Regions from separate parts of the Homo sapiens genome. Here region 1 is linked to region 2. The links come from fine-mapping of genetic effects on gene expression. A gene starts in region 2. The other region holds a variant in brackets. All regions are shown on one strand. Distances are from middle to middle.

The links. PIP is the estimated chance that this variant, and not a neighbour inherited with it, causes the effect.
Region 1: its variant is the best candidate, but not a certain one, in a credible set for the expression of SMARCD1 in whole blood (TOPMed, PIP 0.57).

Annotation. Positions count from the first base shown.
Region 1 is chr12:51,046,094-51,062,280 of GRCh38, forward strand. It overlaps LETMD1 (LETM1 domain containing 1), which reads left to right and starts at 2,234. Exons shown (of 9, transcript NM_015416.5): 1 at 2,234-2,385; 2 at 2,941-3,092; 3 at 5,999-6,114; 4 at 7,685-7,767; 5 at 9,742-9,928; 6 at 10,051-10,152; 7 at 10,257-10,409; 8 at 11,939-12,035; 9 at 13,268-14,331. The coding sequence starts at 2,264. The coding sequence ends at 13,338. CSRNP2 (cysteine and serine rich nuclear protein 2) reads right to left here. Exons shown (of 5, transcript NM_030809.3): 5 at 15,112-16,187. RefSeq lists enhancers at 1,509-1,628, 1,679-1,758, 1,849-2,118, 1,940-2,478, 2,229-2,278 and 1 more. The variant G/C (reference allele first, on the strand shown) is at 11,232.
Region 2 is chr12:50,079,097-50,095,357 of GRCh38, forward strand. SMARCD1 (SWI/SNF related BAF chromatin remodeling complex subunit D1) reads left to right here and starts at 6,246. Exons shown (of 13, transcript NM_003076.5): 1 at 6,246-6,450; 2 at 7,065-7,252; 3 at 7,525-7,567; 4 at 7,660-7,782; 5 at 8,267-8,389; 6 at 9,425-9,541; 7 at 10,788-10,889; 8 at 11,145-11,306; 9 at 11,397-11,494; 10 at 15,341-15,476. The coding sequence starts at 6,274. It overlaps ASIC1 (acid sensing ion channel subunit 1), which reads left to right. Exons shown (of 12, transcript NM_001095.4): 8 at 806-959; 9 at 1,402-1,493; 10 at 2,006-2,085; 11 at 2,164-2,268; 12 at 2,449-4,515. The coding sequence ends at 2,553. RefSeq lists silencers at 1,992-2,161, 6,159-6,598 and enhancers at 4,739-5,471, 5,829-6,088, 6,938-7,669.

The DNA.
Region 1 (16,187 bases), 970 kb after region 2:
AGTGAGCCGAGATTGCGCCACTGCACTCCAGCCTGGGCAACAGAGCGAGACTCCGTGTCAAAAAAAAAAAAAAAGAATACAAAAGTTGTCTGGGCATGGTGGCGGGCGCCTGTAAACCCAGCTACTTGGGAGGCTGAGGCAGGAGAATCACTTGAATCCGGGAGATGAAGGTTGCAGTGAGCTGAAATTGCGCCACTGCACTCCAGCCTGGGTGACAGAGTGAGACTCTGTCTCCAAAAAAAAAAAAAACAAAAAAAAAAACTACCTGAATATGAAGACCATGTCTTAGTCAACTTTTTTTTTTTTTTTTTTTTTTTTGAGACAGTCTCACTCTGTTGCCCAGGCTGGAGTGCAGTGGTGCGATCTTGGCTCACCTCAACCTCCGCCTCCTGGGTTAAAGCGATTCTCCTGCCTCAGCCTCCCGAGTAGCTGGGATTACAGGCGCCCACCACCACATCCGGCTAATTTTTGTATTCTTAGTAGAGATGAGGTTTCACCATGTTGTCCAGGCTGGTCTCGAACTCCTGACCTCGGGTAATCAGCCCGCTTCGGCCTCCCAAAGTGCTGGGATTACAGGCATGAGCCACGGCGCCCAGCCGTCTTAGTCAACTTTCTATCCCGTCCACCCCATCTACCCAACACTTGTGAAGATCCAGGGCCATCTTTTAAAACTTTTCCTCTGACTGCACGAGTGGTACAGTCATTAATAACCTGTGCTAATATAAAGCTCTGTGACCCATAAAGCATTATACAGATGTGGGAGCTTTCACAGCTGTATTCTCTTTGGATCCTCAAAGATTTCTTATAAAGTAGGTACTATTATAAGGGAAATAAACTCAGAGCTAAAGTGACATATCCAAGGTAACATTCACTAAAACAAACGTCAATGCCAAGATTGAACCTATATCCAGGGAACCCACATGGGATGCTCTACCACCTTCCATGAAGAATAAATATTCATATATATCCAAGAGGACTGTTAATTCTTGGAGGCAGTTAAGTACCACTTCTGGGAATCCTTCTTAGTTTCAAGTATGAATCTATTCAAACATGTTTACTGAACACCTACTATGTGCTAAGTAAGGCACCTAGTGTTGGAGGTGCAGCAATGAACAAGGCAGAGAAGATGCTTACCCTCATTCTAGTTCAGGGAGCTGTCAAACAAGGACACAAATACATAAACACTGTAAGTGACAGATGCTACAAAGAAAATACAAGGCCGGGTGCAGTGGCTCACGCCTGTAATCCCAGCACTTTGGGAGGCCAAGGCTGGCGGATCACTTGAGGCCAGGAGTTGAAGACCAGCCTGACCAACATAGTGAGATCCCGTCTCTACTAAAAATACAAAAATTAGCCGGGCGTGGTGGCGGACGCCTGTAATCCCAGATACTCGGGAGGCTGAGGCAGGAGAATCGCTTGAACCCGGGAGGCGGAGGCTGCAGTGAGCCAAGATCGCGCCACTGCACTCCAGCCGGGGCGACAGAGCAAAACTGTCACAAAAACAAAACAACAAAACAAAACAAAACAGAGTAACATGAGAATAAGTGTGAAGTGTGTCCTTTTCGCCGGCACTGCTTCAGATAGGGTGGTCACAGAAATCCTCTCAGAATAGTAACATTTAAGTTGAGACAGAGCTTGGTCTTCGGTAGGTGCTTAACGAAAACCATTTTCCCACAAACTTAGTTCTGGAAACGACAAAGAGAGGAAAAAGTGTACTCAGTCCGCACAGGGGCCGCTCCCAGGCCTCCAACCTTCGCCGCCAGACTGACTGGAAAGTGGACAGTTCCCGGCCTATCCACGCCGGCACCATTAGAGGGCGCCGCGGGTCCTCCTAGCCCCAGGCACTGGCAAACTGACATCTGCTACCTAACAGTCGAGGCTCCGACGCCCCGAGTCCAGGCAGAGGGCAAGGGCGGCGCTGGGAAGCCCTGAGGCCCTAAGGAATCGCGGAGGGTCACTGGGCGCCTCAAGGACAGGGTGCCCTCCGCGTCGCAAACCCACACCAGTGGCATAAGAACTCGCTCCCTCTGGGACACCCTGTTTCCGGCGCCTTTAAACCTGGAAGTACTGCTGTGTCCAATCCTGGCCCTCCTTCCGCACTTAGTCTTTGAGTCCTTCCCTCTCCTGGCTTGTGCTGGAGCCAAGCAGGCTATGGCTACCAATCAGCGCTCAGAAAAGACGCATGCGTCTTCGAACGAACGCGACGTACGGTTAACTTTGACCCAAAGACAACCTCTTCTCTCCCGCTTCTCTCGCTGTGAAGATGGCGCTCTCCAGGGTGTGCTGGGCTCGGTCGGCTGTGTGGGGCTCGGCAGTCACCCCTGGACATTTTGTCACCCGGAGGCTGCAACTTGGTCGCTCTGGCCTGGCTTGGGGGGCCCCTCGGTGAGGGACCTGTAGCGAGAAAAGCATTTTTGACGTCCAGGCTCTTTCAGTGTCTCAACCTTGCTTGCATTCTGTCTCTTAATTCTCAGAGTTCCACGCCTTGGCCCTGGAATTTTTATTCTTCTGTTCAGGATTCAAACTCCGATCCCCACTAGTGACCCGGCTTCCTGACCCTCTGTACTCTCAGTGCCCCATATTGTCTGGTTTCCCCGCGTGTCCTGAGCTCATCTTTCAGCCTCACTTTTTCGGCTCAGGTTTTACCGCTGCTATCTCGATTCCACCTCTTTCTGACTTAGCCTGCAGTTCAAATTGTCCCACAGGCATTGCGCTCTCTCCAGAGGCATACCCTGAGTTACTTTCCTGCCTGGCCTTTGCCTGATTTGTGTTTCACAGTCTGATTGCCTATCTCTTCTTGACCCCAAGACCTTCCTTGGATTTCAGAAGTGTCAAGCCTTGGGATACAATCTCCGAGACTCCTGCTTTACATTAGGGACTCAAGGCGTGAGGGAGCTTCTAGGACTGATTCCCAGATAGTCTCTTTGATCTTCCTTGTAGGTCTTCAAAGCTTCACCTTTCTCCAAAGGCAGATGTGAAGAACTTGATGTCTTATGTGGTAACCAAGACAAAAGCGATTAATGGGAAATACCATCGTTTCTTGGGTCGTCATTTCCCCCGCTTCTATGTCCTGTACACAATCTTCATGAAAGGTAAAAACGAAACTACAATAGAAATTCCGGAATCAGCTCTTGGGCAGGGTCAAAGAGTTAGCATAAATAAGATCATTTGCAGGTTCTGCTATGGGGATGTGAGCCGAGATATCTTATATTTCATAAATGCCTGCGCCTTAAACTAATTCCTATAAATTAGCACTTCTTGAGAATGTTTCTAGAAAGATGTTATGAGAAACAACTTATGACAGCAACATGAGGGAGGGAGAATATAGGTATGTTCTCGTACTTTCTTAACCACACACCTGGCTATAGTAGAAATTTTTTGCCTTGCACACGGCAGGGATCTGTGGCTGTATAGACCTGCCCTGTGATGTATCAGTTGACTTACCCATAGGAAAATGAGGTCTAACCCTTGTTATGAATCTATATTAGGTAGTATGTTGTAGTGGCAATAGCCCTACATAATACTTGGTTTCTAAATGTTTTGTTTCAAATCAGAGATCCTTAGTTACTAGGAGAAGATATGTATCGTGTCAAGTGTCTACTCTGGAGCCAGATTGCCTGATTCAAATCCCAGTTCGTCACTGTGCGATTGGACTAATTAATTAACCCCTCTTTCCTTGGTTTTCTTATGTGTAAAATGGGAGTAATGGAACCTACCTATTTATCACATGATTGTGAAGACTTTAAAAATTGATACATGTAAAGTACCTAGAACAGGTCCTGATCCCTAGTAAGTGCCAAGTAAATGTTAACTTATTTTCATCTAAATGTTACCTAACAGTATTATAAGTTGGTGCAAAAGTAATTGCGGCTTTTGGCTTTCAGTGGCAAAAACCACAATTGCTTTTGCACCAAATCTATAATATGCTCTATGCTTTTATCATAACACTATAATAAACTACATTGTCAAATCTGAACATTATCATAATTATTACTAGCTTCATGGACTTGAAAAATTACTTATCCTTAATTTGTAGAGATAAAATTGGCTGCTTTTTCTGTTTTCATGTAGATAAATAGGATCAAATGAGAGAAAGGGATGAAAGCATTTGTGTTTGTTTTTAAACTTTTTATTATGAATTTTTTTTTTTTTTGAGTCTCACCGTGTCGCCCAGGCTGGAGTGCAATGGCATGATCTCGGTTCACTGCAACCTCTGCTTCCCGGATTCAAGCAATTCTCCTGCCTTAGCCTCCCAAGTAGCTGGGAATACAGGCGCCTGCCACCACACCAGGCTAATTTTTTTATTTTTAGTAGAGGTGGGGTTTCACCATATTGGCCAGGCTGGTCTCTAACTCCTGACCTCGTGATCCGCCTGCCTCGGCTTCCCAAAGTGCTGGGATTACAGGCTTGAGCCACCGCGCCCGGCCAACTATTATGGAAATTTTTAAACACACACAGATGTAGAGAGAGTAGTGTAACAAACTTCCATGTATTAACCTCACTTCATTATCATAACTCATGGCTGCCAATCCTATTTATATACTTGCCTTATGTATTATTTTGAAGACAATCGAGACATCATATAATGACATGTAAATCATTGATAAATATGAAAGCATTAAAGAAATAGATGCAAGAAGCCGGGCGCGGTGGCTCATGCCTGTAACCCCAGCACTTTGGGAGGCCGGGGCGGGCGGATCATCTGAGGTCGGGCGTTTGAGACCAGCCTGACCAACATAGAGAAGCACCGTCTCTACTAAAAATACAAAATCAGCCAGGTATAGTGGCACATGCCTGTAATCCCAGCTACTAGGGAGGCTGAGGCAGGAGAATCTCTTGAACCTGGGAGACGGAGGTTGTGGTGAGCCAAGATCGCACCATTGCACTCCAGCCTGGGCAACAACAGTGAAACTCCCATCTCAAAAAAAAAAAGAAAAGAAAAAAATTAGATGCAAGAATTTTCATAAAATGAAAATTTAAAATGTAATCATAAAAATATATTGAACTAAACTACTTTAAAAAGTGTTCCAGGCTGGGCACGGTGGCTCACGCCTGTAATCCTAGCACTTTGGGAGGCCAAGGCGGGCGGATCATGAGGTCAGGAGTTTGAGACCAGCCTGGCCAACATGGTGAAACCCAGTCTCTATTAAAAATACAAAAATTAGCCAGGTGTGGTGATGGGCACCTATAATCCCAGCTACTCGGAAGGCTGAGGCAGGAGAATTGCTTGAACTCAGGAGGTGGACGTTGCAGTGAGCCGAGATTGCGCCACTGCACTCCAGCCTGGGCGACAGAGCAAAACTCCATCTCAAAAACAAAAATAAGTGTTCCAGGCCGGGCGCAGTGACTCATGCCTGTAATCCCAGCACTTTGGGAGGCCGAGGCAGGTGGATTGCTTGAGGTCAGGAGTTAAAGACGAGCCTGTCCACATGGTGAAACCCCATCTCTACTAAAAATGCAAAAATTAGCCAGGCATGGTGGCACACGCCTGTAATCCTAGCTACTTGGGATTCTGAGGTGGGAGAATTATATAAACCTGGGAGGTGGAGGTTGCAGTCAGCCGAAATCGCACCACTGCACTCCAGCCTGGGCAACAAAGTGAGATTCCATCTCAAAAAAAAGAAAAAAAAAGTTCCAGAAAGGAGATTAAATTAATATCTGGCTGGGGAATACATAGGGTTAATTTAGCAAGACTTTCTGAAGTTAGGGAGCTTGATTTTTAAAAAGGAGTGACCAGTGAAACAGAAGAGGGAGACCATTCCATAGCAGATTACAGAAGCCAAATGTAGCTAGAAGAGAGGCGATGTGCTAGGGGAAAAAATGTTGAGAAAAGAGATTCGAGTTGACCTCAGGAGTTTCAAGTTACCTAGTTTAAAGCTTTGAGTATCGTTGGGGAGGGGTGAGAGTGTTTGCATGTGATTGAACATGGAGTAGGAAGCTGTGGTTAAGATTTAAACTGGGATAACATCACACTCTGTCCTCTACTTTAATGAGGCAGGATTGCAGATGTTATGGGCTGATGCCAAAAAGGCTAGAAGAATAAAGACAAATATGTGGAAGCACAATATAAAGTTTCATCAACTTCCATACCGGGAGATGGAGCATTTGAGACAGGTATGGGCCAGGGGCAGATATCCAGAAGTTCATGGTGAGGTAATTACATTTAATCAAGATCTCAAGGTTTTTTCTTTCATTTGTTGTTCACCATTGATCAAGCTTTTGCCCTTTGCCGTGAGAACAAAATATTGAACTGAATGAGGCATCAGATTATTTGTAAGAATTGGGTTCATCCAGAGTTGTAGCCCTCCATAGCAAGAGCTCCATAGAATTTCTGGCACACTTTCTGAATGAAAGTTGTAAATACTAAAATCTAATTAGTTTCTGAACATAACAAAAGTCTGCAAGGGGGCTGGGCGCGGTGGCTCACGCCTGTAATCCCAGCACTTTGGGAAGCCGAGGCAGGCAGATCACGAAGTCAGGAATTCGAGACCAGCCTGGCCCACAAGGTCAAACCCCATCTCTACTGAAAATACAAAAATTAGCTGAGTGTGGTGGCGGGCGCCTGTAATCCCAGCTACTCGGGAGGCTGAGGCAGGAGAATCGTTTGAACCCGGGAGGCAGAGGTTGCAGTGAGCCAAAATCATGCCATTGCACTCCAGCCTGGGTGACAGGGCAAGACTCCATCTCAAAAAAAAATAATAATAAAATGAAAATAGAAGTCTGCAAGGGCAGCCAGGCACAGTGGCTCTCGCCTATAATCTCAGCATTTTGGGAGACTGAGGTGGGCGGATCACCTGAGGTCAGGAGCTTGAGACCAGCCTGGCCAACATGGTGAAACCCCATCTCTACTAAAAATTCAAAAATTAGCTGGGCATGATGGCAGGCGCCTGTAGTCCTAGTCCCAGCTACTCGGGAGGCTGAGGCAGGAGAATTGCTTGAACCTGGGAGGCGGAGGTTGCAGTGAGTGAAGATCGCGCCACTGCACTCCAGCCTGGGTGATAAGAGCAAAACTCTGTCTCAAAAAAAAAAAAGTCTGCAAGGATCCAAAGGGCAGCATGAAAGTAGTATTTGGTGGTGACTTGATGGGTCGTTTTGAAGCTGAGAGTAAGAATCTAGGACCCATTCCGCAGATCAGGAAGAGTTCACTGAAGGATTTGGTATAATGTCAGGCTCTGTACTAGACATTATTTGGGATACAAAAGTAAATAAGTCAGAGGTTTTGTCCTCAAGGAACTAACCATCCAGAAGTAAATAGAAATAAACTTGGGGACCACATGCAGTGCTCATGCCTGTAATCCTAGCACTTTGGGAAGCCAAGGCGGGCAGATCACTGGAGGTCAGGAGATTGATACCAGCTTGTCCAACATGGTGAAACCCTGTCTCGACTAAAAATACAAAAGTTAGCCTAGAGTGGCGGCTTATGCCAATAATCCCAGCTACTCGGGTGGCTGAGGCAGGAGGATCACTTGAACCCAGGAGGCAGAGGTTGCAGTGAGCTAGGATTGCACCACTGCACTCCAGCCTAGGTGACAGAGCAAGACTCCATCTCAAAAAGAAAAAGAAAGAAATTTGGTCCTTTTTCTGGGCTGTAATAGAAGTTTACTGTACAGTGGGGTGGATGGATTGTCTATTGTATTAACAACTTATTTGGGTTAAAACTGCATCTGTGTTTATTTCTGCTTAGTTCCGCCAAGACGTCACCAAGTGTCTTTTCCTAGGTATTATTTCCATTCCACCTTTTGCCAACTACCTGGTCTTCTTGCTAATGTGAGTACAGACTTCCATCTCCCCAACATCTTGAAGATGTATCAATTTTTTTAAATTAAGAATTACTTTAAACAGCACTCATTTCAGAAGATAGGCAGAGGTTATCAAACTTCTGCTCCAATCTTCTCATTATTCCAAGGTTCATAAAAACCACTTAGGAAGACCTTGGTTACTGTGACACATCACAGCTATAAGTGTAGGTGGCCTAGACTCTCCCTATCTCTTAGCTGCCCTGAGTCATGTGAAATAAGATAGTGACCTTCTCCATCATCCCTAGAGGCTCTCTCCCCGAGAGAGAGTACTTTTAGACTAATTTCTTTAGGAAAAGTACATTTCGTATTCTGATAACATTTTTATTACTTCATATCCAAAAATGACATTTCTTAACTGTGATCTTGCATGTCATTCATTATCTATTGCTGTATAACAAATAACTTCAAAGCTTAATAGCATAAAACAATCGTATAAATCATTTTCATGATTTTGTAGCTCAAGAATTAGGGCAGTGCTCAGGTGGGCAGTTGATTTCTCTCTTCCATATAGGGTTGACAGAGGTCCCTTAGTGATATTTAGCTGCTGAATGGACTAGTCTGGAAAGTCCAATATCACTCTTATGTCTGGTGCCCTGGCAGGGATGGCTACACGGCTAGAACTGTCAACCAGAGTGCCCAGATGTGGCTTCTTCAGTATGGCAGCCTCAAGATAGTGGGACTTCTAACTTGGGAGCTCAGGGCTCCAAGAGTGAGGGGTTCTAGTAAGAATCTACATGACTTTATAACCTTGTCTTGAAGGTCACATAGAGTCACTGCTGCTCTGTCCTATTGATTGAATCAGTCACCTAGAATGAAAAAAGGGCAGGATGTAGACCTCAGCTCTCCATGAGACAAGTGCCAGAGAATTTGAGGTCATGTTTTAAAACCACCAAACACGTAGATAAATAAATTAAAAAACAAATCGTGGCCAGGTGCAGTGGCTCACGCCTGTAATCCCAGCACTTTGGGAGGCCGAGGCGGGCAGATCACAAGGTCAGGAGATTGAGACCATCCTGGCTAACACAGTGAAACCCTGTCTCTACTAAAAATACAAAATACTAGCTAGGCGTGGTGGCGGGTGCCTGTAATCCCAGCTACTTGGGAGGCTGAGGCAGTAGAATCGCATGAACCCAGGAGGCAGAGGTTGCAGTGAGCCGAGATCGCGCCACTGCAGTCCAGCTTGGGTGACAGAGCGAGACTCTGTCTCAAAAAAAAAACAACAAATCAGTTGCCTTTTACATACTGGGTCCACATAAGGACTGTGCTATAGTTAGATTGTCAACATCACATATAGTGTCCTGGTCAGGCTGCAACTCTCTCCAAAGCATGCTCTTCACATGCTTTAGTTCAAAATGAGTCATTATATCTGATTGCTGCGTGGCAGGCTATTCTGCTAGTCCTTCCTTTCACATCCCATTTCAGTAATGGTGCTTGAAATTGTGCTTCAGTGTGTCTTATAAACTTTGGTCTGAGAGTCACTTAAGAGAAAGGGCTGACTGTAGTGGCTCTCACCAGTAATCCCAGCACTTGGGGAGACTGAAGCAGGAAGATTGCTTGAGACCAGGAGTTTGAGACCACCCTGGGCAATATAGCAAGACCCGTCTCTGCAAAAAAATTAAAAACTTAGCCAGGCATAGTGGCCTGTGCCTGTAGTCCCAGCTACTCAGTAGGCTGTGGTGGGAGGATTGCTTGAGCCTAGGAGGTCGAGGCTGCAGTGAGCTGTGATCTTGCCACTGTACTCCAGCCTGGGTGAGAGAGGGGACCCTGTCTCTTAAAAAAAAAAAAAAAAAAAAAAAAACTGAAAAAGAAAAAGAACACTGAGGTAGGGAAATAGTGTCTCCATCTCTTCTTCCTAGTATTCATGTCTACCAAATGCTTTCTTTGGCTTCCTCTGAAAGAAGCCAGTTTCAGCAAGTGAGTTTGTGATTCTTTCTCCTTTCAGGTACCTGTTTCCCAGGCAACTACTGATCAGGCATTTCTGGACCCCAAAACAACAAACTGATTTCTTAGATATCTATCATGCTTTCCGGAAGCAGTCCCACCCAGAAATTATTAGTTATTTAGAAAAGGTCATCCCTCTCATTTCTGATGCAGGACTCCGGTGGCGTCTGACAGATCTGTGCACCAAGGTATTCCTGCAGTTAACCCTTCCTACAAATGTGGAATCTTGTTAGATTCAGTGTGCACTAAACTAGGTAAGAGGAGTAGTCAGGACTTTCCTAACATCTACAAATCTCTTACCTCTTCCAAGATACAGCGTGGTACCCACCCAGCAATACATGATATCTTGGCTCTGAGAGAGTGTTTCTCTAACCATCCTCTGGGCATGAACCAACTCCAGGCTTTGCACGTGGTGAGCACTTTGAGGGCTTCTCTTTTCCATAGCATCACCATGTTTCAGGTGTTTGCTTGAGCTCATACTATTTGCCTTTCCCCTCCTATGTGGTTGTGTTACAGAAAGCCTTGAGCCGGGCCATGCTTCTCACATCTTACCTGCCTCCTCCCTTGTTGAGACATCGTTTGAAGACTCATACAACTGTGATTCACCAACTGGACAAGGCTTTGGCAAAGCTGGGGATTGGCCAGCTGACTGCTCAGGAAGTAAAATCGGTAAGAGCTTGATTGCAACATCAACCCTCAACCCTTGGTGTGCTTTTGAGCCTATGGCAGGCCGGAGGTTTACAGGGGCTCCTTGTCTTGTTTGTTTATAGAACCCAGCTTCTTTATTCTCTCACTTCATTTATTTATTTATGATTTATTTTTATTTATTTATTTATTTTGAGACAGAGTCTCATTCTGTTGCCCAGGCTAGAGTACAGTGGCACAGTCTTGGCTCACTGCAACCTCTGCCTCCCGGTTCAAGTGATCCTCCTACCTCAGCCTCCCAAGTAGCTGGATTACAGGTGTGCACCACCACGCCCAGCTAATTTTTTGTATTTTTAGTAGAGATGGTTTCACCATGTTTGCCAGGCTGATCTCAAACCCCTGGCCTCAAGAGATCCATCAACCCAAAGTGCCGAGACTACAGGTGTGAGCTACCGCACCCAGCATATTTATTTATTTTTCAGTCTCACTATTTTAACCAAGCTGGTCTTGAACTCCTGGCCTCAAGCAATCCTCCCATCTTGGCCTCCTAAAGTGCTGGGAATACAGCCGTGAACCACTGTGCCCGGCCTTTTTAAAAATTATTTTTTAATTAGCCAGGAGTGGTGGCACATGCCTGTAATCCCAGGTACTTGGGAGGCTGAGACATGAGAATTGCTTGAACCCAGGAGGTGGATTGCAGTGAGCCAAGATCGCACCACTGCACTCCAGCCTGGGTGATAGAGTGAGACTCTGTCTCAAAAAAAACCCAAAAAATAAAATAAAATTATTTTTTATTTTTGTAGAGACAGGGTCTCACTATGTTGCCCAGGCTGGTCTTGAACTCCT[G/C]GGCTCAAGTGATCCTCCCGCCTTGGCCTTTCAAAGTGTTGGGATTACAGGCATGAGCCACTGCGCCCAGCTCCTCACCTCATTTCTGTGTCTTTTTTCTCAAGAAACTTAGCTAGGGGGAAGGAATTGCCCACAGAAATTTTGGTTTGTATTTCTTTTCTTCTGGCACTTCAGAAAGCAAGGATACTGCAGTTTAGACCTACTATTTTAGCTTATATAGGACTCTTTGCTTTTGTCATCTTGTCCATCACTAGTTTTCAAATTGCCATGAGGAAAGGCTTCATGTGGGAATGAGATTGTAACTTTTTTTTTTTTTTTTGAGACAGAGTCTCGCTCTGTTGCCCAGGCTGGAGTGCAGTGGCATGATCTTGGCTCACTGCAACCTCCGCCTCCCAGGTTCCAGTGATTCTCCTGCCTCAGCCTCCCGAGTAGCTGGGACTGCAGGTGCATGCCACCACGCCTGGCTAATTTTTGTATTTTTTAGTAGAGATGGTGTTTCACCATATTGGCCAGGCTGGTCTCCAACTCCTGACCTCGTGATCCGCCTACCTCGGCCTCCCAAAGTGCTGGGATTACAGGCACGAGCCACCGTGCCCGGTGAGATTGTAACTTATTTAAAGGAGATTTAGGATTGTTTGTGGATTTCCATTTCCTTGGCATAATCATTCTATGATTATTAAGGACCATTTCTGTTCTGAGTGGTATAGGCTTGTTATCTCCGTGGCCTGAATTCTACGCATATTGGTGAAGATAGGTGTCGAACTTGGCTGGGAGAATGGCTGCAGATTTCCTGCAGCCTGAAAGGTAAAACACATTTCTGTGGTTATACCACTAAAATCCAAGTCACTTTTGTATTTTATTCTGAGGTCATTTTGGAGTTAATTATTGAGTACTGTGAGACATATATATACATACATCTAATTGAAAGGGCACAAACTCACATGCCTACTGCATGCCCGGCAGGTAACGAAGTAGGCCATAAGACAAGAGGGAGTAGTGGGGACTGTGGAAACCTAAGAGTGAATGCATGCTAGTGTGAATTTTCCAACCTTGGCACTTCCTTATGGGGGGAATATCCTGTGCTTTATTTATTTATTTATTTATTTATTTTGAGACGGGGTTTCGCTCTTGTTGCCCAGGCTGGAGTGCAATGGTGCGATCTCGGCTCACCGTAACCTCTGCCTCCTGGGTTCAAGTGATTCTCCTGTCTCAGCCTCCCAAGTAGCTGGGATTACAGGCATGCACCACCACGCCCAGCTAATTTCGTATTTTTTTTTAGTAGAGACCAGGTTTCTCCATGTTGGTCAGGCTGATCTCGAACTCCCGACCTCAGGTGATCCGCTGGCCTCGGCCTCCCAAAGTTTTGGGATCACTGGCGTGAGCCACCATGTCCAGCCTATCCTGTTCTTTATAGGTATTTATTATAGCAGTATCCCTAGCCTCTACCCACTAGATGCCAGTAGCACCCCTTCACCCACAGTTGTCTCAACCAAAAATGTCTCTAGACATTGCCAAATGTCCTAGGGGTGGGGAGGAGAGAGGCAGGATTGTCCCCGTTGAGAAGTACTGGTCTAAAGGCATTCAAACTCAGAAAAAAAACAGTCTGCTGACCAAACACAAAGCATCTGAGGGTATGTATTAGGCTTGTTTGCCCCCTGTTTAGGCTAGGTCTTGATGTTTTGTGGGCCTTTGGATGTTAGGGTAGGCCTACTAATCTTGAAGCTGAGAAATGTCCCTAGAGCACCAACTTCTACCAGAAGAATCCCAACGCGACTGGTGTTTAGTACCATTACCATCTCTGAATTTTCTACTGCAATCACATGAGAAATAGAGGATGAGTTGATACGAATATATAGTAGAAGGAAAGGAAGGCATGCATACAGGGGCTGAAACAAAGAAGGGGAACTTTGAGAAAAACAGCTTCTTCATTCCACCCCTCCCTGCACTTGGCTTCCTGCCTCCAGGCTTAAGCCATATATAACAAGGCAGTTATAAGGCAGTGTTCCCAAGCCAAACCACTAACACTGTGTTTTCAGAAGCTGAGCTGTCTCTCTTGCTGCACAACGTGGTCCTGCTCTCCACCAACTACCTTGGGACAAGGCGCTGAATGAACCATGGAGCGGATGGCATTGTCCTGCAGTCGTATAGTATAGCAGTGCAGGAACAAACAGCACTTGCCAGCAAAGTCTGTGTGTACTGTTAAGTGTGTGGGAGGCAGAGAGAGGAGCAGGGGCCATGGGCTTCACAGCATGGCACACATGTGGGAACTGCAGACATTCCTCTCACAGCTAGAACTGAAACAAACCCTCTTGCTAGGGGTGGTCCGTGTGAGGTGTCATCCTGTCCCCCTCATAATTACTAATAGCTGGAACTGGCAGCAGCCTCTACTGGGCTTTTACTGTGATGTGTTCAGTTCATGTCCTAGGAAGTCAGCTTTTGCCCCAGGTGGGAATCCTTATTTGGCTTAGGACTGATCCACTTCCATGTTACTTACATCTGTGGGTTTTTGTTGTTGCTGTTAGAAAATTTGTGGCTGGTGAAAACAGCACTCCTTTGGCTGGAGCACATGTGTCCGTGCATGTACTTGGGTGTTTCCCTCCATCCTTTCTGATATGACCAAAAATCAAGTTGTTTTGTTTTTTGTCACCTTCACTGGCATGGGCTAACCACTTCTTTTTCAAACCCTCTGAACACCTTTTTCTGATGGGTAACTTGCAGGAATATTCTATTGGAAAAGATAACAGGAAGTACAAGTGCTTCTTGACCCCTTCCTCAATGTTTCTAGCCTTCACTCTCCATTGTCTTTTCTGGGCTGTATTACAGCCCTCTGTGGATCTTCAACTCTGCTGCCTCCACTGTGATGCAGCAGTCCAACTGTAACTGACAGTGGCTGCCTTCTCTGGGCCATGGATCACACCTGTAAGGTACTAATTACTGCCCAGCCTGGGGAGATCAGGAGAGGTCTGCATAGTTAGTAAGTTGGGTTTAGCTTTTGTGTGTGCATCAGTGACTTAGAGTTCTGTAATAACTTATTGTAAATGCATGAAGCACTGTTTTTAAACCCAAGTAAAGACTGCTTGAAACCTGTTGATGGAAATGACTTATGCATACTCTAATCATTTTGCTGTCTCCTTTTACAAGACTGACATAATCTAACAAATGGGGATTTAATTGGTTGGCATAGAACCTTCTGATGGGATGGAAGTTTTGCAGAAACTGATTTGAAGTTGATCTCCTTGCTGGACACTTTAAGGTGATAACAAGGAAAAGAGAATTTCATAAAGTTAATGGAATGAGGCCGGGCGCGGCGGCTCACGCCTGTAATCCCAGCACTTTGGGAGGCTGAGGCGAGCGGATCACAAGGTCAGGAGATCAAGACCATCCTGGCTAACACGGTGAAACCCCGTCTCAACTAAAATAGCAAAAAATTAGCCAGGCGTGGTGGTGGGCGCCTGTAGTCCCAGCTACTCAGGAGGCTGAGGCAGGAGAATGGCGTGAACCCGGGAGGCGGAGCTTGCAGTGAGCCGAGATTACGACACTGCACTCCAGTCTGGGCGACAGAATGAGATTCTGTCTCAAAAAAAAAAAAAAAAAAAAAGTTAATGGAATGAGAAAATGGGAGCCCAGAGTAGGGACAGGGCTAAGCTCCAACAGAGCAGGAGCAAGGCCTGCTTCAGCTGAACAGGTACACAAGGGCATATGAACCAAGTCCAGCTCTTGGTACTCCAAAGAGAATATTCTATTTTTCCATCACAAAATGTTTCTATTGTTAACATTAATTCCTAACTGACCTAATTAGTTTTATAACGAAGCTAGAGAAGCATCCTTTTTCTAACAAGTAACTGAACTGTGGCCTGCCGAGACAAAGAGTAACACATCATTCTTTTGAATATTTCTTTAATATTACATTTAAATATTCTCTTTAAATACAGCATTATCACAATGTAAAGAACCTAAAGGGGAAAAAATTATTTTCAGAGAACCAGACAAGCTTTGGATTCACATTGAAAATACTACCTGTGTACAGTATGTGAGAAAGGAAATTGGAAAATAATAAGGGTTGTGGTAATAAGAGTCATTTATCTAGGCCTAGACTGGGACTGAAGCTATCTGCTTCTATGATCAGAGGCCTAGCTTTCCTAGCAACCATGAGCTAGAATTCTGTCCAACTCAGGTAGCACCAGAAGTGAGATGGACTAGGTTGTAGAGAAGGCCTTTCGCTTGACAAGACAGTTAATGCTAAATGTTAATATTTAGCACTTAAAAGTTTGGGATCAGTGTGAGTCACAACTGTAGCGTTAATGAAGGGGATGGACTTAAATTAAGAAACTACAGGTTTTCAGAAACATATCTTGTGGGTTGGCAATGAGCTTAATAATTACAGATTCATATTCCTGGTTTGATCCCAAAAGCTAATGTGTTCCTCATCGTGCAGCTGGAATCTACTTCCTAGATTAAGCCGGAGCCTTCCTGCAGAGACAGTGGGCAAACCTCACCCTCCCCTTCCGACACAAACTTTGAAAAAGATTCTTTTCTCCATAAAGCCAAATTCCCAATTAAGCTTCAGTCCTGTGTTTGAGGGTACCAGTCTAAGGTAGGGGAGTCTAGTTCAGTTCTGGGTAGCTTCGAGAGCTCAGGTACTTAAAAGACTCTCAACTGTGTTTTGTGAGGCTAGGGGATGGGGAGAGATAAGGATCTGTGTACTTAAGTTCCCCTCCAAACTAAAACCAAGCAAAAACTGGAACAAATAGGAAAGGCAGAATGAACTAAAAAATGTTATGTGTATTAAATACAAATCTTTTCAGGCTCAGAGTTTAGAGACTTCAGGGGTGAAATGCTGCTGCGACATACGTGATGGTTTCTGTAAGACACCAGGGCCTTAATATCCCACCAGAAAAGGCTTTATGAGCAAGATAAGTAGGAGTAGTGTCTCCCCCCCAACACAGTTTTTCACTT
Region 2 (16,261 bases):
CCCTCTCTTGTGTCTGACATTAAAGCTGAGAATGGTCAGTCATGGTGGCTTACACCTGTAATCCCAGCACTTTGGGAGGCTGAGGTGGGCAAATTGCTTGAGCCCAGGAGTTCGAGACCAGCCTGGTTTCATGGTGAAACCCTGACTCTATGAAAAATTAAAAAAAAATTATGTGGGCATGGTGGCATGTGCCTCTAGTCCCAGCTACTCTGGAGGCTGAGGTGGGAGAATTCCTTGAACCGGGGAGGTGAGGTTGCAGTGAGCCGAGATTGCACCACTGCACTCCAGCCTGGGTGACAGAGCAAGACCCTGTCTGAGAATAATAATAATAATCAATAAAGTTGAGAATAGCATCTTCAGAGGCCCCTATGAAAAATGAACAGAGGTCACCTGGGAATGGCCTTCATCTTCTTTCATCAGCCCCTCAGCTGGTTGACCCTGGAGGGTCCTGAGGAAGTGAGATATAAGAGTAAGAAATATCCATGGGGAGGCTTGGTGAGAATTAGCACATGGTAGACACAGCTGTGAGGGGGCAGCTGGGGTTCTCCTCACTCTCCTAGTTCTCTCCATCTACATCGTTGGTTCAGTGGCCTGCAGGGTTCAGCAGGTAAAGTCCTCAAACATGCCTCAGGCTGGATGGTGAGGTAGGATGTTGGCAGAGTTTAGCATCCAGGCAGGGTGAAGGGCAGGTCACGGAAAGAGAAAGGGGCCCAGAGTTTCTCTGGGCAGAGCTAGGATGTGCATGTGGGAAGGTGCTGGCAGAAGGGCACCACTCAACTGAGACCTCTCACCTGGCTGAGTGCAGACTTCCTGGTGGAGAAGGACCAGGAGTACTGCGTGTGTGAAATGCCTTGCAACCTGACCCGCTATGGCAAAGAGCTGTCCATGGTCAAGATCCCCAGCAAAGCCTCAGCCAAGTACCTGGCCAAGAAGTTCAACAAATCTGAGCAATACATAGGGTAAGGGCTCTGGCTGGGTAGAGCAAGGCCCTTGGGTTGGGACTGTGGAATGGATGAGTGGGGTTTGATGGGGGCGGGGGCTGGCAGGCAGGGGGAACTTGAGATAACACGGGGAAGGTCCAAAAGGCAAGCAAAGAGTCTAGGGTGGGTATGCAGGGAAGATCAAGCCAGAATAAGCAGGGAAGCACCCCTTTCTCCTCCTTCTTCATCCTCATTGTTGTAACCGGAGTCACTTTATACTTGATGCATACTGCATATGGTACAGAACATTTTTTCATATATGCCATCTCATTTAATCCTAAAAGGCAGGTATCTCCATCAGCATCTCATTTTATGGATATGGAAACTGAGATTCAGAGAGGCTGCCTTGCCAAGGTCACCTGGTTAGTAAGAGATAGAGATATGACTTGAACCTAGGTCTCCTCCCCCAATCCCTGTGCAGGGAGAACATCCTGGTGCTGGACATTTTCTTTGAAGTCCTCAACTATGAGACCATTGAACAGAAGAAGGCCTATGAGATTGCAGGGCTCCTGGGTGAGCTGCTGATGACACCTGTCCCCTTCTCATGCCATGGGCATGGCGTGGCTCCCTATCATCCAAAAGCAGGGTGCTCACTTCTGTCCCATGAGGGTCCTCCACCCCAGAGGCCCTTCCCCAAACCCTGTTGTCTTGGTAAGTGGTGAGGGAAGGGAACTGAGCCTTCTCTTAGGGCAAAGTGGAAAAGAGAAAAGACAGGCCTGTGGGCATGAGGGAGGGGTAGGCATGGAAGTGGAGACTATTTCATATGCCCCTAAACTAAGAGGGTTGTGGTATTTTGTAAACGATTATTTTTCTTGAAAAACACCTGCTTGTTTTAGAAAGGTAGAAAAACGCAGAAAAGCATAGAGAAGAAAACAAAAATTCCACCTGAATCTGGCTTTGCGATCCTTCTGTGCGAAGGCTACCAATCCCTTTGAGAATACAACTTGCCTGCCCCAGTCCCAGTAAACCCTGCTGCCCCCACGATGTCCTGACCCCACTGACCCCCCTGGCGCCTGCCCCCGCAGGTGACATCGGGGGCCAGATGGGGCTGTTCATCGGGGCCAGCATCCTCACGGTGCTGGAGCTCTTTGACTACGCCTACGAGGTAAGCGGGGGCGAGGCCCGGCACGGGGCCACGTGGGGGCGGGGTCCAGCCCGCCCACCTGCCCCGTCCCCGTCCTAGGTCATTAAGCACAAGCTGTGCCGACGAGGAAAATGCCAGAAGGAGGCCAAAAGGAGCAGTGCGGACAAGGGCGTGGCCCTCAGCCTGGACGACGTCAAAAGACACGTGAGGGAGCGAGCGAGGGCGCCCTCCAGCCCGCCTGTGCCTCCACCGCCCCAGGAACCCCGTCCACCCCCGCCCACCCGCCTCTGCCACCACCTTCTCTCCTTTGCCTCCCGAATGCCCCAGCACTACCTGAAGCCCTTCCGAGGGATAACCCGTCCCTGTCCTGTCCCCTTCCCCCAGAACCCGTGCGAGAGCCTTCGGGGCCACCCTGCCGGGATGACATACGCTGCCAACATCCTACCTCACCATCCGGCCCGAGGCACGTTCGAGGACTTTACCTGCTGAGCCCCGCAGGCCGCTGAACCAAAGGCCTAGATGGGGAGGACTAGGAGAGCGAGGGGGCCCCCAGCTGCCTCCTCACATCTGCCCTGGGGACTCCCCACACTCCGGGGCAGATCTTTCCTCTTGTCTGTGGTAAGGAAGGAGTCTTGACCATAGAGTCCTCTCTCTGCCTCTATCCCATTCTTTTTACATTTAACAAAACTAATCTAAAAAAGAACTAAAAAGGGAGAACGGGGCAAGGGACCTCAGGCTGCCCCTCTCTCCTCCATGCTGCCTCCCCTAGCTCCCAGCCTGAATTCTGTCTATCTAGCTGTCTGCCATCTGAGTGTCCATCTACATTCTGCTGCCACCAGTCACCAAAGGCCCTTCCCAGTGAGGGGTGGAAGGGATCTCTGGGGTCTGGAATTTGGCCCCAAACCAGAGAATGTACCTTAAGGGGGAGGGCTAGTGTGGGGGAGGGAGGCTTCCCCAGCCTTAAGAGACCCTCTCAGCCCAGTGACTGTCCCCAAACCCAAGTCTCCTGGCAGGAACTAAAACCTCAGCCCCACTCTCTCACACCATGTGGAATCTCGTGGGGGTCGGGGATCCCCTTAAGAAGTGGTAATGGGGACAAGATGCGGCCCTGGTGCTGTAGGCTACATCCTGATACCTATAAGTTCACCCCCACCCCACAGCTGCTGGAGAGAAATCCCAAGAGGCAGCCCTTCCTCACCATCCCATTAAAGACCGGGCTGGTTAGCGTCCAGCTCAGGGAGAAGGGCGCTAGTGCCTAACCTCACTGGTCCCTCTCCCGGAGGCCCTTGTAGAGGGCCACGTCCATAAATTTTCTTATGGAACTCTCCCACATCCTCTTCCCCAACTTCATTTGCTTCTCTCAACAACCTCATCTGCATTTTCTATTTCTATATGATACAGACTCTATATTGCTATATCTCTGTATATACTTTCCCAGCCCTGTCTGTCTCCACCCCATCCCCTCTTGTCTCTGAGAACCATTCTCCCACCCCAAGTTCCACCTTCTATGTTTCTACTCCCTCCCTGGTCTCTGAATGCCTTCGCCTGTATAAAGAGTTGGACTCTCTCCCCTGGTGTCTGTACTGTGTACACACATCCCTCTGAGAAGCACAAGGAGACGACACGCGCATTGTAACCTTTGCACTGTCTCAGTGGCGACAAAGGAAGCTGTGAATCACAAGCTCTGCCTCTTTCTGGCCTCACCCTCTCCCCCAACCCGGGCACCCTCGGCCCTCCCTGCAGCCTTAACATTCTCTTCCCCTGCTCCTCCTATCCCATTGCCCTCTGCCCAGCTGACAGTGGCATCCCCAGGGAAGGGGTTGCTGTAGAGATAGCCCCCACCCAGGGGATGGAGGTCTACCCTGGACACTAAGCCAAGTGTGTCAGAGACAGAAGGGAGCTGGGGATTGGCGACTCCTGAAGTTGGGGCAGTGGGATGCTGACAGGCAGAAGCTGAGGTCCTCAGTCAGTGGCCTTTCCTCCTTCTGGGTGCCCAGCCCCCTTTCCTCACCTGATACCCAAGCCCACCACTTTTATTTTCTGGTGAGGTGGGTTTGGGAGGAAAGAGAGGCCTAGAGGAGGAGTTGAAAGCTCTGCTGTTGTCTCACCCTATCTTAATGAGAGACAAGTGAGGTGGAGGGCCTGCCCCCCCTCCCTCCACCAGACACTCCTTCCAGGCCTGAGCCCCAACCCCTCTTCAGGCCTTCCTTCCCTAGCTGTGTCTTGGTCTTCAATCCCAGAACAGGACCTGTGAGCAGCTGCATTGGCCTGGAGCTGGAGAGTAAGGCTGTAGGATCTTTGGAATCTCTTGGTTCCTAAGAGTTTCCTCAGAGATCATACCTCCCCAGAGGGAAGCAGGAATGAGGCCAAAAAGTGTGCATTGGATAGGGGAACAGCAGGCAGGGCTCTGGGTGACGCATGCCTCTGGTCTAATAAACTGGGTTTCAACCATCTCCTCTTCAGTGTTGTTCTCTTATTTGAAAAAGTATTTAGATATTCTCACTAAGTGCCTAAAGCTGAGCTTGGTTTGGGGCCAATTAGGGGATGAGTAAGGAGAAGGTTTGAGTAGGGACACTGTGGTCCCCCTGGGATGGGACAGGCTGACCATTATATCAGGAATAGTTTGAACCACTGGGCAGGGAAAGAGGGAGAAGTCAAAGGCAACAAAGTTCCAAAACAGAATCCCCAATACAAAGGATGCTTTAGAGAGAGAGAGCAGAGTCAAAATTCAAGATAAACTGGAACTTATCATAAAATCTGGAAGCAGGCTGGCACGGTGGCTCATGCCCGTAATCCCAACACTTTGGGAGGCTGAGACAGGTGGATCACTTGCGGCCAGGAGTTCGAGATCAGCCTATGCAACATAGTGAAACCCCCATCCCTATTTTTTTTTTCTTTTTTGAGATGGAGTCTCGCTCTGTCGCCCAGGCTGGAGTGCAGTGGCGCGATCTCGGCTCACTGCAAGCTCCGCCTCCCGGGTTCACACCATTCCCCTGCCTCAGCCTCCCGAGTAGCTGGGACTACAGGCGCCCGCCACCACGCCCGGCTAATTTTTTTGTGTTTTTAGTAGAGACGGGGTTTCACCGTGTTAGCCAGGATGGTCTCGATCTCCTGACCTCATGATCCACCCGCCTGGGCCTCCCAAGTGCTGGGATTACAGGCATGAGCCACCGTGCCCAGCCCCCCATCCCTATTTTTTAATATTTAAAAAAAAAAAAATCTGAGGCCAGGCACAATGGCTCACACCTGTAATCCCAGCATTTTGGGAGGCTGAGGAGCACAGATCGCTTGAGCTCAGGAGTTCGAGACCAACCTGGGCAACATGGCGAAACCCCATCCCTACCAAAAATACAAAACAGTCTGGCATGGTGGTGCATGCCTGTGGTCCCAGCTACTTGGTAGGCTGAGTTGGGAGGATCACTTGAGCCTGGGAGGCGGAGGTTGCAGTGAGCTGAGATGGTGCCACTGCACTCCAGCTTGGGCGAGAGAGAGACAGACCTCATCTAAAAAAAAATAAAAAATAAAAAATAATAATCCGGAAGCAGGTTAGGTCAGAGAGAAAGTTAGGATGAAGTTCCCACGTGAGGTACTTATTGAGGCACTTTATCTGTGGAATGAGTCCCGGGCTATGAGCAAGGGTATCTGGAATCTTGGCTTCGGCTTTATGGCTAACTTGCTGGTTGACCTTTGCCAAGTCATTCACCTGTGAGTTCAGCTTTCCCATTTGTAAAATGGAATAAACTGTGTTTCCCTCCTCAGCCCCTGATAGTTATAGCAGTAAGAAAACGAAACGAAAAGCAGTCAAAGCGTTTTGGAAAGTTAACGCCATGCGCCAAGATGAAGCTATTACTCCAAGCCCCTCTTCATCAGAGGGCTCGAGTTGGGGTTGAGACTGGGGCTGAGGCTGTGGTCCGTCCCCCTTTCCAGGTCCTTGTCTTCCTCCCGTCGGCCTGGGGGCGCCCGCTCACGCGGCCTCTCTATTGCAGAGCTCTTCTCTATGGTTTTCCCTCCCGGACCGTGAAGGCGGGAGGGCGTGGCCAGCACGCCTTTTCCGCTAGTCGCCCCGCTCTATCCCATAGTCTCGCTGCCCTGAGCCTCCCGTGCCGGCCGGCCGGCCGGGGGAACAGGCGGGCGCTCGGGGGGCGCTCGGGGGGCGGGGGGAGTTCCGGTTCCGGTTCTTTGTGCGGCTGCATCGGCGGCTCCGGGAAGATGGCGGCCCGGGCGGGTTTCCAGTCTGTGGCTCCAAGCGGCGGCGCCGGAGCCTCAGGAGGGGCGGGCGCGGCTGCTGCCTTGGGCCCGGGCGGAACTCCGGGGCCTCCTGTGCGAATGGGCCCGGCTCCGGGTCAAGGGCTGTACCGCTCCCCGATGCCCGGAGCGGCCTATCCGGTGAGTGGGGCAGGAGGAGGGGCGCGCGGGCCGGGGGCGGGGCCGAGCGGGGACATGGGAGTGACAGGGGTGGGGGGAGAAGTAGGAGGGACTCCCTTGGGAGGGGTTCGGGCTCTGGGTGGGGGTTGGGGGAGGCAGTGCGCAGAAAGAGAGGGGGAGGCAGTTACACACCTGCTCCTAGGGGCATTGTTTCCCTGGGGAGTCGGTAGAGAACCTGGGTGGGTGAAGTGGGTCCAGGGATACCTGTATGAGGGCCGGAGTGCAAAGGGGCTTGAGCAGCTCCAGTGATCAGAGGAACACAGAACGTGTAGCTGACAAATTGAGGTCAGCTTCTAAAGAGATAGTAGCTAGCAGAGTAAATGTGGAACTGGCGATGTCCGATGTGTCCCATCCAAAATAGACTGAGAATTTGAGTATAATCTGGCTCTCGCTTAGCTTTTGGACTCTGTTTTTCTATGGAGTCACTACTGGAGCAAAGGGTTCTCCTCTCATTGTCCTCCATTCCATCCCTAAACCTTACTTCATTCAAAGATCTCAGGCGTTCCCTGCTTTTCTTTCTTGATGGGGTTTAGCAGGTGAAACCATGACATCTCTGGGTCCTCTCCCCTCTGTAGAGACCAGGTATGTTGCCAGGCAGCCGAATGACACCTCAGGGACCTTCCATGGGACCCCCTGGCTATGGGGGGAACCCTTCAGTCCGACCTGGCCTGGCCCAGTCAGGGATGGATCAGTCCCGCAAGAGACCTGCCCCTCAGCAGATCCAGCAGGTCCAGCAGCAGGCGGTCCAAAATCGAAACCACAAGTAAGATGATCCTGGGGCAGAGGGAGGGAGGGAGGGAGCCTGGGAGGACACAGGTGGTGGGAGTACCTGAACCAAGAAGTGGTGGTGCTGTGTCAGCAGATGGTGCTACAGAACTCATCCTTGAGAATGCTTGGTGGTGGTGGTGGTGGTGGTAGTTCTTTGAGAGAAGCTTTGCAGTCCCTTCACATTACTATAAATGGACGTGCTGACAGCTTATTTTCACGTTCTGACTAGTTCTGTCCCAACCTGATAATAGTATTTATTCCCAACAGTGCAAAGAAAAAGAAGATGGCTGACAAAATTCTACCTCAAAGGGTGAGTCCAGGCTATATGTCTTCTGGAAAGTGTGGTGAGTTTGAGTATAGAGATGATCATCCTAGATTTCAATTAATTTTTCTGTTCCTAAGATTCGTGAACTGGTACCAGAATCCCAGGCCTATATGGATCTCTTGGCTTTTGAAAGGAAACTGGACCAGACTATCATGAGGAAACGGCTAGATATCCAAGAGGCCTTGAAACGTCCCATCAAGGTAACACAGGAAAGTACTAGGCAGAGAGCCAAAGGAGAGGACCCAGGAACCTTCAGCAGAATTAGGATGAGAAATCAAAGGCACAGCACAACTCTCCTTGGCATTTAAATTGCATCTCTCCCTTCCGCCTACAAACTGAGAATTACATTAGGAGGATAAGAACAGAATGGCAAAGGGGGAGGGGCTCTTGATGTCTCTTGCACTACAAATATACCCTTGTCCATGTTTTCGCTGTAACTGCTCTGCTACCTTGGGAACCTGGCACCTTGCATGACTTTGTCCACCTGGCATCCCACTATATGCACTTGTACTTAGGCTGATGGCCAGTACTCCTCTTCTAAATGGAATCTTCATCCACCCACCCAAGGGACTGGGTAGACAGTAAGCCAGTCTGTTAGGAGTAATTTTGGGGTTTGGGGAGACCGTTGTCTTCAACATCAGACCACTGAAGCCCCACGATCAATCCTGTTTCTGCCTTCCTCAGCAAAAACGGAAGCTGCGAATTTTCATTTCTAACACTTTCAATCCGGCTAAGTCAGATGCCGAGGATGGGGAAGGGACGGTGGCTTCCTGGGAGCTTCGGGTAGAAGGACGGCTCCTGGAGGATGTGAGTTCAAGGTCCACAATGGTTGGCATCTAGGGTGGGAGCTGCTGGGAATGAACAGTGTTGTCTGGTCAGCAGGAAGCCTAACTGGTGCTCACAGCTCCTTTTGGGAGCAGTAAGGAGAGGGACACTGTTCCCTGCACTGAAAGACAGTGGTCCTTTGTGTTTGCCCCCACACCTTTGGCCCTCACTGGTATCATATGGAGAACCTTATTGTCCTGGGATCTGATTTGTGGTTTACCTTCCTCTTGGTGCTGCTGGCCATTGGATTTAGCCATATCTGTAGATTATTTAGTTTTTTTTTTTTAATCGAGTTTGCACTTAATTTGAGGCTGTGTTTCCTCTCTGAGTCCTTGTGGTATCTCCATCTTCTCAACTTTCACTGGAGGCACCCCACAGTTTAAGTAGGATAGATTTCTCTTGACAGGCTCTTTGTTGCTTCCTGGGGAGCATCAGCTGACAGGTGATAGTCCCCAAACTTCCCACCCCAGAAGCTCCTCGGGGAAGCTCACCTTTCTCTCATTCCCTTACATTCTCTGGCTCTTATTTTTAGCTGCTCGCAGGCAAGCTAGTTGGAATGCACTTTTGCAGGAGAACCAGGGCTCAGTGTCAGAGCCTCCTTCTCTATATAGGTCCGGTCCATCTGCTGGTGGTGTCATTCTGTCCAAATAAAGCTGTTTTTGTTCTGGCTGCTTATTGCCTGTGATTCATTTCCCCTCTAGAGTCAGACTTTTCTCTGTTCAAACTCGCTTAGTTATGTGCAATGGTTTGCTTAACTTGCCTCATTTCCCTTGGGCAAATGAGATGGGTAAAACAGTGACCCTCTATGTGTTCTAGGCTGCTTCTTCAGGGTTCTGTTGCTACTATGATTGGTTTAATACCTGCAGATGCCTACTTTGCCTATCTCTCTTAAGAGATATTCAGAAGATATTTTTTGAGTTTTTTTCCATTGTTGTTGGGGTTCCTTTTTCATAGGATTTTGTCTTGGGAAGTTTCTTCTGGCCTTTCCTAATGTGATTTTTATTTTCTCTCCTCTAGTCAGCCTTGTCCAAATATGATGCCACTAAACAAAAGAGGAAGTTCTCTTCCTTTTTTAAGTCCTTGGTGATTGAACTGGACAAAGACCTGTATGGGCCAGACAACCATCTGGTAGAAGTGAGTAGCTCTGCCTTCTAGGCTTTGACTCTGATTGGAGGATGATGGACTTGGGAGCCGTATTTTAATGTCTAAGGAGATGGGGAGGTATAAAGTAGTCACTCTAGGTGTACACAGTACCGCTCCAGGTGTACAGTTTGCACATTGACCTCTAGGTGGCACTAGCATGTTTAGTTAGGACCAAGGGCTCTTGTAACCTAACTTGTCCCATCTTTTTAATGTTACTATCCTGGTCACTGCCACCTCTTTCAAGGGAAAGTCTACTGGTGGCCTCTTGTATGTGCCAGGCCATCTCTGTATCTTGCTTGTTAATAATGGTGAGATGTAGTTATCCATTTTTCCTGGCAGCAGTTGCTGTAATTAGAGTGATTGACTGATAGGGTACTAGTACTTGCCAAGGTTACCATTATAGATCTGGGACTTCCTCTTGGTCTCTGCTCTGTTTACATTTACATTCCAATTCACCAAAAATCCTTTATTATGATGCCTGATTGCACAACGTTTTGAAGCCCATGTTAGCAACAGTATTCTTTGGGAAACAGGCAAAACCAGAATGACAGTCCAGCCAGCACTCCAAGTGAACCTAACCTGCTCCTTTCTTTGCCAGTGTAGCTGCAGCCCCTTAACCTCAACCACTAAGAGACATGGGGAGGTCTTTACCATCTAATAAGGGAAGTAAGTCATAGAATCAATAGAAACTTGTAAATATATTTAATTTTATAGCAGTAGAGTATAGTGGCTAAGAATGTGGACTGTAGAATCAGACACATCAGAGCTCAAATGGTGGCTCCGCCACTTACTGGCTGTTTGACCTAGGCAAGTTACTTTATTATGCTGAGCATTAGTTTTCTCATCTGTAAAATAAGTATAATTGTGCCTATCTTGTATAGATGTTCGGGAAGTGAGATAATCCAGGTAAATGTCTTAGAATACTGTCACACATAGTAAGTACTCAGTAAATGATAGCTATGTTACTGTTCACATGTGTATTATCCATTTTGTGGATAAAATTATCACTGGACATTGAGGCTTATTTAAATCAACCACAAACAATTAAAAGGTTAATCTACTTATACACAGACAGTAATCCCAAAGCCATATGCAGTTTTTTAAAATGCCTCATGCTATTACTCTTCTCCAGTAGCCTCAGTAATCAAAGTTGAATATTCAGTCATTACAGAAGCTCTTCCCTCCCACCCCAGCTCTTCCTCTGGGAGAGCACCCCCTGACATCTTCCTCTCTGTAGTGGCACAGGACCGCCACTACCCAGGAGACCGATGGCTTTCAGGTGAAGCGGCCGGGAGACGTGAATGTACGGTGTACTGTCCTACTGATGCTGGATTACCAGGTATTCTGTGGTGGTGTGAGGGGGTCCAGCTTTCACAGCCACATACCGTCAGCAGTCTCACTTTAAAGAGTTTATGTCTAGTTGTGAATAATTTGCCACTTTGGCACAGAGATAGAGTCTTAGTCATCTCTGAGTTCTTCCTAGAATTTTTCTGTCCCAGAAAAAGCACTACATTATTTGTTGAATAGCTTGAATGTATTGCTGCATATAGACGCAGCTAACTAGCTTCATCCCCTATACTTTGGTTCCCTGCAGCCTCCCCAGTTTAAATTAGACCCCCGCCTAGCTCGACTCCTGGGCATCCATACCCAGACTCGTCCAGTGATCATCCAAGCACTGTGGCAATATATTAAGACACATAAGCTCCAGGACCCTCACGAGCGGGAGTTTGTCATCTGTGACAAGTACCTGCAGCAGGTAAGTAATGGACCCATTCTTTTGCTAGAATCCATTAGAACACTAGTTATGCTCAAACTGCTAACCTCGTGCTTCTCCCCTTTGCTACAGATCTTTGAGTCTCAACGTATGAAGTTTTCAGAGATCCCTCAGCGGCTCCATGCCTTGCTTATGCCACCAGAACCTATCATCATTAATCATGTCATCAGGTAGGCCTGTGTGTGGGAGGCAGTGCTGTGCCGGAGCTGCCTTGTGCCGATTTGCACAAGCCAGTTGTCAAATTTTCAGGAATTTTGCAAACAGGTTGTTAAACACAACTGTTACACTGTTACTTACAATTAAATTACATAAACTTATAATTAAATATATTAGACTAAAAGTGGGTAACATATATTCAAAATGTATAACTTCCTAATTATTACATTTTATTGTATTTGTGCTTTTTTTTTTTTTTTTTTTTGGAGACAGAGTCTCACTCTGTTGCCCAGGCTGGAGTCCAGTGGCGCGATCTCGGCTCACTGCAAGCTCCGCCTCCTGGGTTCACGCCATTCTCCTGCCTCAGCCTCCCGAGTAGCCGGGACTACAGGCACCCGTCACCACACCTGGCTAATTTTTTGTATTTTTAGTAGAGATGGGGTTTCACCATGTTAGCCAGGATGGTCTCAATCTGACCTCGTGATCTGCCCGCCGAGCCTCGTGATCTGCCCGCCTCGGCCTCCCAAAGTGCTCGGATTACAGGCATGAGCCACCGCGCCCAGCCTGTATTTGTGCTCTTGAGGTTATTTTTGCCTGTTGTATCCATCTGGCGGAAATATGATATAATGATGTGCTTATGTGTTACTGTGCATCTCTTCCCATGAACAGTAATGTAATGTTGGTAGCTTGAAATCAGAATTTTTTTTTTTTTTTTTGGGATGGAGTTTCACTCTTGTTATGCAGGCTGGAGTGCAATGGCACAATGTTGGCTCACCGTAACCTCTGCCTACTGGGTTCAAGTGATTCTCCTGCCGTAGCCTCCCACATAGCTGGGATTACAGGCATGTGCCACCATGCCTGGCTAATTTTGTATTTTTAGTAGAGACAAGGTTTCTCCATGTTGGTCAGGCTGGTCTTGAACTCCCGACCTCAGGTGATCCACCCGCCTTGGCTTCCCAAAGTGCTGGGACTACAGGCGTGAGCCACCGCGCCCGGCCTTTTGTTTTGTTTTGTTTTGAGATGTAGTTTTGCTCTTGTTGCCCAGGCTGGTGTGCAATGGCATGATCTCAGCTCACTGAAACCTCCGCCACCTGAGTTCAAGCAATTCTCCCTCCCCAGCCTCCCACGTCGCTGGGATTACAGGCACCTGCTACCATGCCCAGCTAATTTTTTTATATTTTTAGTAGAGACGGGGCTTCACCATGTTTGCCAGGCTGATCTCAAACTCCTGACCTCAGGTGATCCGCCCACCTGGCCTCCCAAAGTGCTGGGATTACAGGTGTGAGCCACTGCGCCCGGCTGAAATCAGAATATTTAAAGCCCAAAGATCAGCAAATGCCACACATCTGGGCACTTCCTCCCACTCTCCTTTGGAAGATCAGTTGTTAAACATCTACCAGCTCTTCACTCATGGAAGGGCTCAGCAGCCATCTTTTCTCTGGATGGTACAGCATTCTAGTCCGAGCCTCCCAATTCCATTACCTCTGTTCACTTTTTTGTTTAGAAGCTGGAGAGCAAGGCATCTCTAGATAGGGGGTGAAGAAAATTTCCTTCTCAAAGCAGCGTGTCTCTGTAGTTGGATATAGTCTCTTTGTCTTCCTTCCTTTATTCCATATTAATTCTGGTAAGGGCTTTCTTTTCTTTTCTTTTCTTTCTTTCTTTTTTTTTTTTTTTTTTTTTTGAGACAGACAGAATCTCACTCTGTTGCACAATCTCGGCTCACTGCAACCTCTGCCTCCTGGGTTCAAGCGATTCTCCTGCCTCAGCCTCCCAAGTAGTTGGGATTACAGGCGCATGCCACCACGCCCAGCTAATTTTTTGTATTTTAGTAGAGACGGGGTTTTACCATGTTGGCCAGGATGGTCTCGATCTCTTGGTCACGTGATCCACCCGCCTCGGCCTCCCAAAGTGCTGGGATTACAGGTGTGAGCCACCACACCCGGTGGGCTTTTTTTTTTTTTTTCTTTTGACCCTGAACCTACAAGATGACAGAGAGGGAGGGGAAAAAAAGAAAAAAGATAAGACCCTGAACCTTCACTTACACAGTAGTAACTCCTCAACCTATAAATTAGGTCAGTAGAAGTTGGTCTGTCCTATATTCCTATGCTTAAAGTTAGACCACTTTTAATTTTGTGTTTGACTTTATTTTTGGGGTCAATTTTAGTTTAAAAGGGAGAAAGCCAGGCACGGTGGCACATTCCTGTAGACCCAGCTACTCCAGAGGCTGAGGTGGGTAGATCACTTGAGTCCTGGAGTTCGAGTCCAGCCTGGGCAACAGAGTAAAATCCTGTCTCTGAAACAATAAAAAAAGATTTGTTTGGCTGGGCGCAGTGGCTCACGTCTGTAATCCCAGCACTTTGGGAGGCCAAGGTGGGTGGATCACAAGGTCAGGAGTTCAAGACCAGTCTGGCTAATATGGTGAAACCCCATCTCTACTAAAAATACAAAAATTAGCTGGGCATGGTGGTGGGCGCCTGTAGTCCCAGCTACTTGGGAGGCTGAGGCAGGAGAATCACTTGAACCGGGGAGGCAGAGGTTGCAGTGAGCCAAGACTGCGCCACTGCACTCCAGCATAGACAACAGAGCAAGACTCCATCTAAAAAAAAAAAGAAAGGCTTCGTTTGTTTAAACATACAGAGTCTTGCTCTGTCATCCAGGCTGGAGTGCAGTGGCATGATCTTCGCTCTCTGCAACCGCTGCCTCCCAGGTTCAAGCAATTCTCGTGCCTCAGCCTCCCAAGTAGTTGTAATTACAGGCGTGCACCACTTTTTGTATTGAGGTTTCGCCATGTTGGCCACACTAGCGTTGAATTCCTGGCCTTGAGTGATCTGCCCGTGTTGGCTTCCCAGAATGCTGGGATTACAGGTGTGAGCCACCGCACCTGGCCAAAAAAGTTTTAAAAATTATTATTATTATTTCTTTTTTGAGACAGAGTCTCTCTCTGTTGCCCAGGCTGGAGTGCAGTGGTGTAATCATGGCTCACTGCATCCTCGACCTCCTGGGCTCAAGTGATCCTCCCACCTCGCCTCCTGAGCAGCTGGGACCACAGATGTGTGCCACCACGCCCAGGAATTGTTTTGAAATTTTTTGTAGAAACTGGGGTCTGTGTGGTGTAGGCTGGTCTCAAACTCGTGGGCTCAAGCAGTCCTCTTACCTGAGCCTCCCAAAGTGTTAGGATTACAGGCATGAGCCACCATGGCTCGCCGAATTTTTTTTATTTTTAGAGATCGTCTCACTCTGTCACCCAGGCTGAAGTATAGTGGCATGAACTTGGCTCACTATATCCTCTGCCTCCCGGGTTCAAGAGATTCTCCTGCCTCAGCTTCCCCAGTAGCTGGGATTACAGGCGTGAGCTACCACGTCCGGCTAGTTTTTAGTAGAAATGGGGTTTCACCATGTTCCTGACCTCAGGTGATCGCCCACCTTGGCCTCCCAAAGTGCTGGGATTACAGGCATAAGCCACCACGCCTGGCTGCCAAATATTTTTTTTAAAGGGAGAAAGATATATAGGAGACTGTAGCAGTGATTTCCTCTGGAGAGAAAGGAACTACTTTTCACAGGATACCTTTTGTACTGCTTGAATTTTTACCATTGACTTTTTAAATAAATCAACTTTATTGAAGTATAATTTATATATAACAAATTATACCAATTGAAAGTGTAGTTTGAAGATTTTTGCCAGATCTGTACACCATGTAGCTGCCACAATAAAGTGTAGAACATTTCTGTCACACCCGAAAGTTCTCGGGCCCTTTTACAGTTAGCCCCTTTTCTCTTCATCCTGGGTCATCTTTTTGACCCTGTGTAATTAGGTCTTAGGGGACAAGCTCTTTACCAGGCTCCTTTGGTTTCCTGTCCAGTGTTGACCCGAATGATCAGAAAAAGACAGCTTGTTATGACATTGATGTTGAAGTGGATGACACCTTGAAGACCCAGATGAATTCTTTTCTGCTGTCCACTGCCAGCCAACAGGAGATTGCTACTCTAGACAACAAGGTAGGGGTCTGTGCCCTGGATAGTTGGGTACCACCAGCCCCTATCACAGCTTCAAGGCCTCCTTTTGATTCTTAGTGTTCATTCAAAATACGGTGACACCCAGTATATGTCAGGTACTGTGCTTGGTGCTGGTTTGAGCCAGACTCAAATGAATTCTGATTGTGGGGATACTCTCAACAGCACTGAGCCTCGGTTTCTGATTTGTGGAATAGAGACCATAGTACCTTTTTTTTCCTTTTTTCTTTTCAGGAGTCTCGCTCTCTCGCCCAGGCTGGAGTGCAGTGGTGCAATCCCGCCTCACGGCAACCTCCACTTCCTGGGTTCAAGCGATTCTCCTGCCTCAGCCTCCCAAGTAGCTGGGATTACAGTCACCCACCATCACACCCGGCTGATTTTTGTATTTTTAGTAGAGACGAGGTTTCACCATGTTGGCCAGGCTGGTCTCCAACTCCTGACCTCAAGTGATCTGCCCGCCTCAGCCTCCCAAAGTACTGGGATTACAGGCGTGAGCCACCACGCCCAGCCCATAGTACCTATTTTAATCAGGTTGCTATGACGATTAAATGAGGGAGTGTGTGTAAAGACTTGAGACTGTATCTGGCACATAAAAACAACAAATGGTAACTTCTGCTACTATTATTGTTATCTGGGTTGTTATTACTAGACGCAGTCCTTGCAAATAAAGCCAAAAGTGCTTTGGGAACATGAAGGAGAAAGGGAGGCTTTGCTGGAAGAGTTGATGCCCCAACTAAATCTTTTCTTTTTTTTTTTTGAGATGGAGTCTT